Linked DNA regions of Homo sapiens: region 1 is linked to region 2. Evidence: fine-mapped expression QTL. A gene starts in region 2. The other region holds a variant in brackets. All regions are shown on one strand. Distances are from middle to middle.

The links. PIP is the estimated chance that this variant, and not a neighbour inherited with it, causes the effect.
Region 1: its variant is fine-mapped to the expression of TECPR1 in whole blood (TOPMed, PIP above 0.99).

Annotation. Positions count from the first base shown.
Region 1 is chr7:98,215,746-98,218,627 of GRCh38, reverse strand. TECPR1 (tectonin beta-propeller repeat containing 1) reads left to right here. Exons shown (of 26, transcript NM_015395.3): 24 at 586-692; 25 at 817-936; 26 at 1,125-2,882. The coding sequence ends at 1,238. Among named protein-coding and RNA genes, the nearest start is that of BHLHA15, 5.7 kb to the right of the region's middle. RefSeq lists an enhancer at 283-342. The variant C/T (reference allele first, on the strand shown) is at 1,512.
Region 2 is chr7:98,251,102-98,253,999 of GRCh38, reverse strand. TECPR1 (tectonin beta-propeller repeat containing 1) reads left to right here and starts at 1,768. Exons shown (of 26, transcript NM_015395.3): 1 at 1,768-1,874; 2 at 2,452-2,606. It overlaps LOC124901706 (a long non-coding RNA gene), which reads right to left and starts at 1,641. Exons shown (of 2, transcript XR_007060448.1): 1 at 1,472-1,641; 2 at 1-1,116. RefSeq lists silencers at 1,482-1,581, 1,672-2,061 and an enhancer at 1,378-2,121.

The sequences.
Region 1 (2,882 bases), 35 kb after region 2:
ATTTTTTGCAGCTGTTGTAAAAGGGGTTAATTTGATTCTCAGCCTGGTTGCTGCTGGCATGTAGCAGTGCTACTAATTTGTGTGCATTGATTTTGTAACCTGAGACTTTCCTGAACTCATATGTCAAATCTAGGAGTCTTTTGGAGGCGTCTTTAGGGTTTTCTAGGTATTTGATCCTATCATGGGCAAACAGACACACCGTGACTTCCTCTTTTTCGATTTGGATGCCCTTTCTTTCTTTCTCTTGCCTGATTGCTCTGGCTAGGACTTCCCTTGTCCATAGTTTCTGCCTCAGCAGAAAGAGGATCAGGAGGCCGGCCGTGCCCAGCACAATAGGGCGATTATGAGGCTCGGGGGACGCCCCGAGTGTGCAGAAGGCGGAGCTGGCTGCAGCCCAGGCTCCTGAGTGTGGAGAAGCGGAGGAGGCTGTGGCCCTGACTCAGGGGCCAGGACCCTCCTGCCTCCCCAGCAGCTTCCCAAACCCCGAAGTGGTTAGAGCGGGGCCTGGCCACCGGCTGCCGGGCCGCACGGGCAGGAGGGGCCGGGAAGGTCTTCCCCTTTGACCCTCACTGCTTTTCTCCCCAGGAAACCTGTGGTATCGCCAAGGGATCACGCCCAGCTACCCGCAGGGCTCCAGCTGGGAGCACGTGTCCAACAACGTGTGCCGAGTGTCCGTGGGGCCCCTGGACCAGGTGGGGGTGCTCAGGGGGTATCGGGCACTTGGGGTGCTCTGGTTCCCTCTCTGGTCTCCCCCATCCCATGCCCAGCCGTCCCACTGCAGGTAGGGCTGAGGGCTTCATGGGGTCTGTGCTCCAGGTCTGGGTGATCGCCAACAAAGTGCAGGGCAGCCACAGCCTGAGCCGGGGGACAGTGTGTCATCGCACCGGCGTGCAGCCTCACGAGCCCAAGGGCCACGGCTGGGACTACGGCATCGGGGTGAGCGGGGCCCGCGGCCTTGGGCTGTGTTATCACCTTGTGCCTGCACTGGGTGCTGAAGACGGGACGACCACTGTGGGACTGTCCCCTGGGACCCGGTGTCTGGGTTGCAGGGAGGCCCCCAGGCAGATCCCCTCCAGGATCCTCGAGTCCCCGAGTCCCCTGGTGACACAGCTCTCTCCTTCCAGGGAGGCTGGGACCATATCTCTGTCCGGGCCAATGCCACCAGGGCCCCCCGGAGCTCGTCCCAGGAGCAGGAGCCGAGTGCCCCACCAGAGGCCCATGGCCCCGTCTGCTGCTGAGGCCCCCCCACACACCTACATGCAGGGACGGTGCCCAGTTTGGGGGATCAAGGCTGAGCCATTCTTGTGCTGGAGTGTGCACCGTGGGAGCAATGTGGCCCAGGTGGACTCAGGAGGGAACCTGGCCCCAAGGCTGCGGCCACTTCAGAGGCACTGGCTGAGACGGCCCTGAAATGTGAAGCTCCGCGGACACTCCCACACGTGTCCCCGTCTGCGAGGAGTCCCGGGGTGTGGGGCATGGGGTGGGGCTGCACCTCCCAGAGGCCCCTCCCA[C/T]CCTTCCCTTCCCCTCTCCCTTCTGCCTTTCCAGGACTAGAACCGGGAACCTGGAGCCCTCCGGGAACGCCGGCCCTGGGGCAGCAGAGCCAGGATGGAGCCCTCCTGAGCTGGCATCTCAGACAGCACCCGGGCCCGCCACCCCTCACCAAGAGAGATGGCCATGGGGCTCAGGGCCTCTTTACCATGTGCAGTGACCATTTCTCAGAGCAGGACTTGCAAAGAGGCTTTAATTTCAAAAGTGAAGGAAGGAGGCCAGGCGCCGTGGCTCACGCCTGTAATCCCAGCACTTTGGGAGGCTGAGGTGGGCAGATCACCTAGGTCAAGAGTTTCAAACCAGACGGGCCAACATGGTGAAACCCCATCTCTGCTAAAAATACAAAAAAAAAAAAATTAGCTGGGCATGGTGGTGGGTGCCTGTAATCCCAGCTACTCGGGAGGCTGAGGCAGGAGAATCGTTTGAACCCGGGAGGCGGAGGCTGCAGTGAGCCGAGATCATGCCACTGCACTCCAGCCTGGGCGACAGAGACTCCATCTCAAAAAAAAAAAAAAAAAAAAGTGAAGGAAGGAGACAGCAGATTGGAAATAACACTGGAGTGGATGGGATGTCCTCTTCCCTGAGGGGGCCGGGGTACCAGACGGGAGGCTGGGAGAGGATGAGAGGCTGCCCCATGGCTGGAGGCAGTGTCCGTGTGTGCAGTCACCATCATCAACCCCCATTCGGCCCCTTCCCCAGATGCGCTGGTGACAGGGGCTTCTTGGATGTCAAATCATGTTGTAGGAGGGTGCAGACTGCGGGCTTCTGTGGGGAGCAGTACTACTGTGTCTGTCGGCAGTGGCCATGGGACCCTCAGCCCGTCCTGTACATGGAGCAGGGTGCACAGTCACCCTCCATCCTGTGGCGAGAGGCTGGCCCGGCCCGGCCAGGCGAGGCAGAAGGTGTCGGCCAAGTGGCCCCGACCCCATCCCGCAGTCTCTCAGCTGCTTTTTATTACCTCTGTGCCCCATTTGGGAGTTTGCTTCCTCCACCTGGACACTTTGCCCGGGAGGTCATCAGAGCCCAACCCCAGGCTCTGCTCGGTTGGAGAGGGGATGACTTCACCACCACCTGACCTTCCTAGGGTCCTGGTCTCACTGTCAGCTGGGGGTCCGTTGTGTGTATTTGTACAGTTTTGCTGTATGGGGTTTGTCACCCAAAAGCTGATGCTGAGAAAGGCCTCCCTGGGGCCCCTCCCGCGGGCATCTGAGAGACCTGGTGTTCCAGTGTTTCTGGAAATGGGTCCCAGTGCCGCCGGCTGTGAAGCTCTCAGATCAATCACGGGAAGGGCCTGGCGGTGGTGGCCACCTGGAACCACCCTGTCCTGTCTGTTT
Region 2 (2,898 bases):
TGGAGTGTAGTGGCACAATCTCAGCTCACTGCAAGCTCCGCCTCCTGGGTTCACCTCATTATCCTGCCTCAGCCTCCCGAGTAGCTGGGACTACAGGCGCCCGCCACCACGCCCGGCTAATTTTTTGTGTTTTTAGTAGAGACGGTGTTTCACCATGTTAGCCAGGATGGTCTCATCTCCTGACCTCATGATCCACCCGCCTCGGCCTCCCAAAGGGCTGGGATTACAGGCGTGAACCACTGCGCCCGGCCCACTCATCGTCCTTCTGCTAATAGCACCCTGATCTTCCTCTGAGGAGCCACCCCCTGTGCCTGGCTGAGCCCTTATGCTTGAGGGGGGCTCTGCCCACATCTCCAGACCAAGTCCACAAATGCCAGTCCCTCAGGCCCAAGCTAAAGTCAGGGTCAGACACAGGACTCCACAGAGCCATCCGGGGTGAACAAGAGGCTTCTGGGGGCGTTTTCTTCCACTGGAGCTGGCCTGTGTGGGGCTTCCCCAAACATGAAGGCCCAGGAAAAGCCTGTGTGCAACCCCAGAAATGAGACAGAACTAGAGGGGGAGCAGGAATAGGTCCCTAGGTCCAACCAGGTGACATTGGTTTAGCTCAATGTCGGGTAGTATCTAGCCTTCCATCAGATGCCCTTTTTTTTCTTTTTTGAGAAGGAGTTTTGCTCTTGTCGCCCAGGCTGTAGTGCGGTGGCACAGTGGCACGATCTCAGCTCACTGCAACCTCCACCTCCCCAGTTCAAGCGATTTTCCTGCCTCAGTCTCCCGAGTAGCTGAGATTACAGGCATGCGCCACCACCCCTGGCTAATTTTGCATTTTTACTAGAGACGGGGTTTCACCATCTTGGCCAGGCTGGTCTCAAACCCCTGACCTCAAGTGATCCGCCCGCCTTGGCCTCCCAAAGTGCTGGGATTACAGGTATGAACCGCCGCACCTGGCCGACATCTTTCTTTTTTCTCCTTTCTCCATCCTAACCTTGCCAGTTTTCTGCCAGGCGGGATACAGTGTTTTCAAATCCCAGTTCCATCGCTTACAACGTGAGTCGCTCCATCTCTGAGCCCGTGTTCGCATTTGTAAAATGGGAATGACGCCGCCAGCTCTTTGGGTTGCTGGGAGGATGAAATGAGAAGACCCAAGTAAAGCACTTACGTCAGTGCCCGCCACCCCGGGAGGACTCGCATATTACTATTAATATATTAGGCCAGCTTACACTGGGTTTTGTCACTGACAATAGAGTTTGAGCAATCCAGGGCCTGTTACTGACACCACACCATGCTATAGTCACAAAATCACATATGCTTCCAGGACTCCTCCTCGAAAGAGTAAAGCTTTAAGTGTAGTGTGTGCTCAAGGGCTACGTTTCAGTTCGATGGATACCAGGAAGACACCTGTTCCCTGCGTCCTCTCCACGCCCCAGGCCGGGCGCCCACACCCTGCTCCTCCTGACGCCGCACAGCCACGCACCCAGGTACCCTCTCCGCCACCCCTTCTCCTCGCCTGCAGGCGGTGTCCACACCGCCCTCTCCGCTCCTGCAGACCGGGTCCTGGAGGGCGGCCGGGCGGTCCACGGGCCGGTGTCGCGCCGCCAGAGAGAACGCGGCAACTCGCTTCAGCCGACTCTGGACTCCTGACCTGGCGCGACCCCGGAAGTGGGCGGGCGCGCGACCTCGAAGCCAGCACCGACGCGGCGCACCGCAGCCAATCGCACGTCCCAGGTCGCAGCGTCCTGGCGAGGCTGGCCAATGGGCACGGGGCCTGATGCCGCTTCCGGCCCACCCTCTTGCCCGGTCCCCGGGAGGGCCGGTCCGCTCCTCCCGGACGCCGAGGACCTACCACCGCGACTTCGCCCCGCCCGGCGCGGGCCCAGGTGAGTGCAGAGTGGCGCCCCAGCTGCAGCGGCGGCCAGGGCCGTGGGAAAGAATGGGGCGATGAAGGGCTGGGCACGCCGCCTTCCCCACCACCCCCAGGCTGTTTGCTCGCGGGGAGGGAGGAAGGAGGGACCGCACTTGTCATCTCGCCTGCACACCTGGAAGGTGCCGCCCCCGTCCCCTGCCCTGGAACGCCCACAGGCTAGCGAAGTTGCCTGGTGCAGGTGACGCCCCCATTCCAGCCTTTGGACTGGAGCCATAGGAGAAGCGGATCGCGGGATCCTGGTTGTTTTCGAGAATCACGCAGCAAGGGGCCTGCCTATCCCTCTCCCTGGGTATTGATGGGAGCAAATCTGCTTGTCGTAAGATTAGCTTTGGCAGATGGTCAGGGCCCAGAGCTCCGACATATGCTACTGGTGGCAGTGCAGGGGCCCCACCTGTCACCCAAGTGCACAGCACTGGGCTGAACGCCAGGCTGACTCAGGACACCTCCTGCCCGGTGGGGCTGGGCGGACCCTATTCTTCAGGAAAGAATCAACTACCATGCAAGTTCTGCTGCTTTTTCCCACCTTTTAGGACCCTGATGTCGCTTTTGAACAGCCCCTGCACCTGGCAGCCAGCGAGCTACTGTAGTAGGCATTGCCGACTGTTTGCATACCGGATGGGAGTGACAGTGTAATAGAAAAACAAGCAAGAAACCTTTTAGGTAGGACTCCTAAGGCTCAGAGGAAGTAAGTGCTTGCGGAGCGTTCTTTGTACTGTGTCTTTTCCTCTACCACATCTCTGTCCCCGCCTCTCTTGGGTGCTTTTTTTGGTCTCTGAAAGGATCTGTGAATAAACTGAGACAGAAAGGCAGATGGCTTTGAGGGTGGCGAGCAGACCTTCTTCGTGGAAAGACTGAAGGTTCAACTCAAATTCATCTTGTAGAAATTCTTGGTGAATTCGAGGCTGCTGATTTGGAAGATTTTCCTCCATCCCTCTAACCCTACAAAACAAACAAGTCCCAGGATCCCTGAATCATGG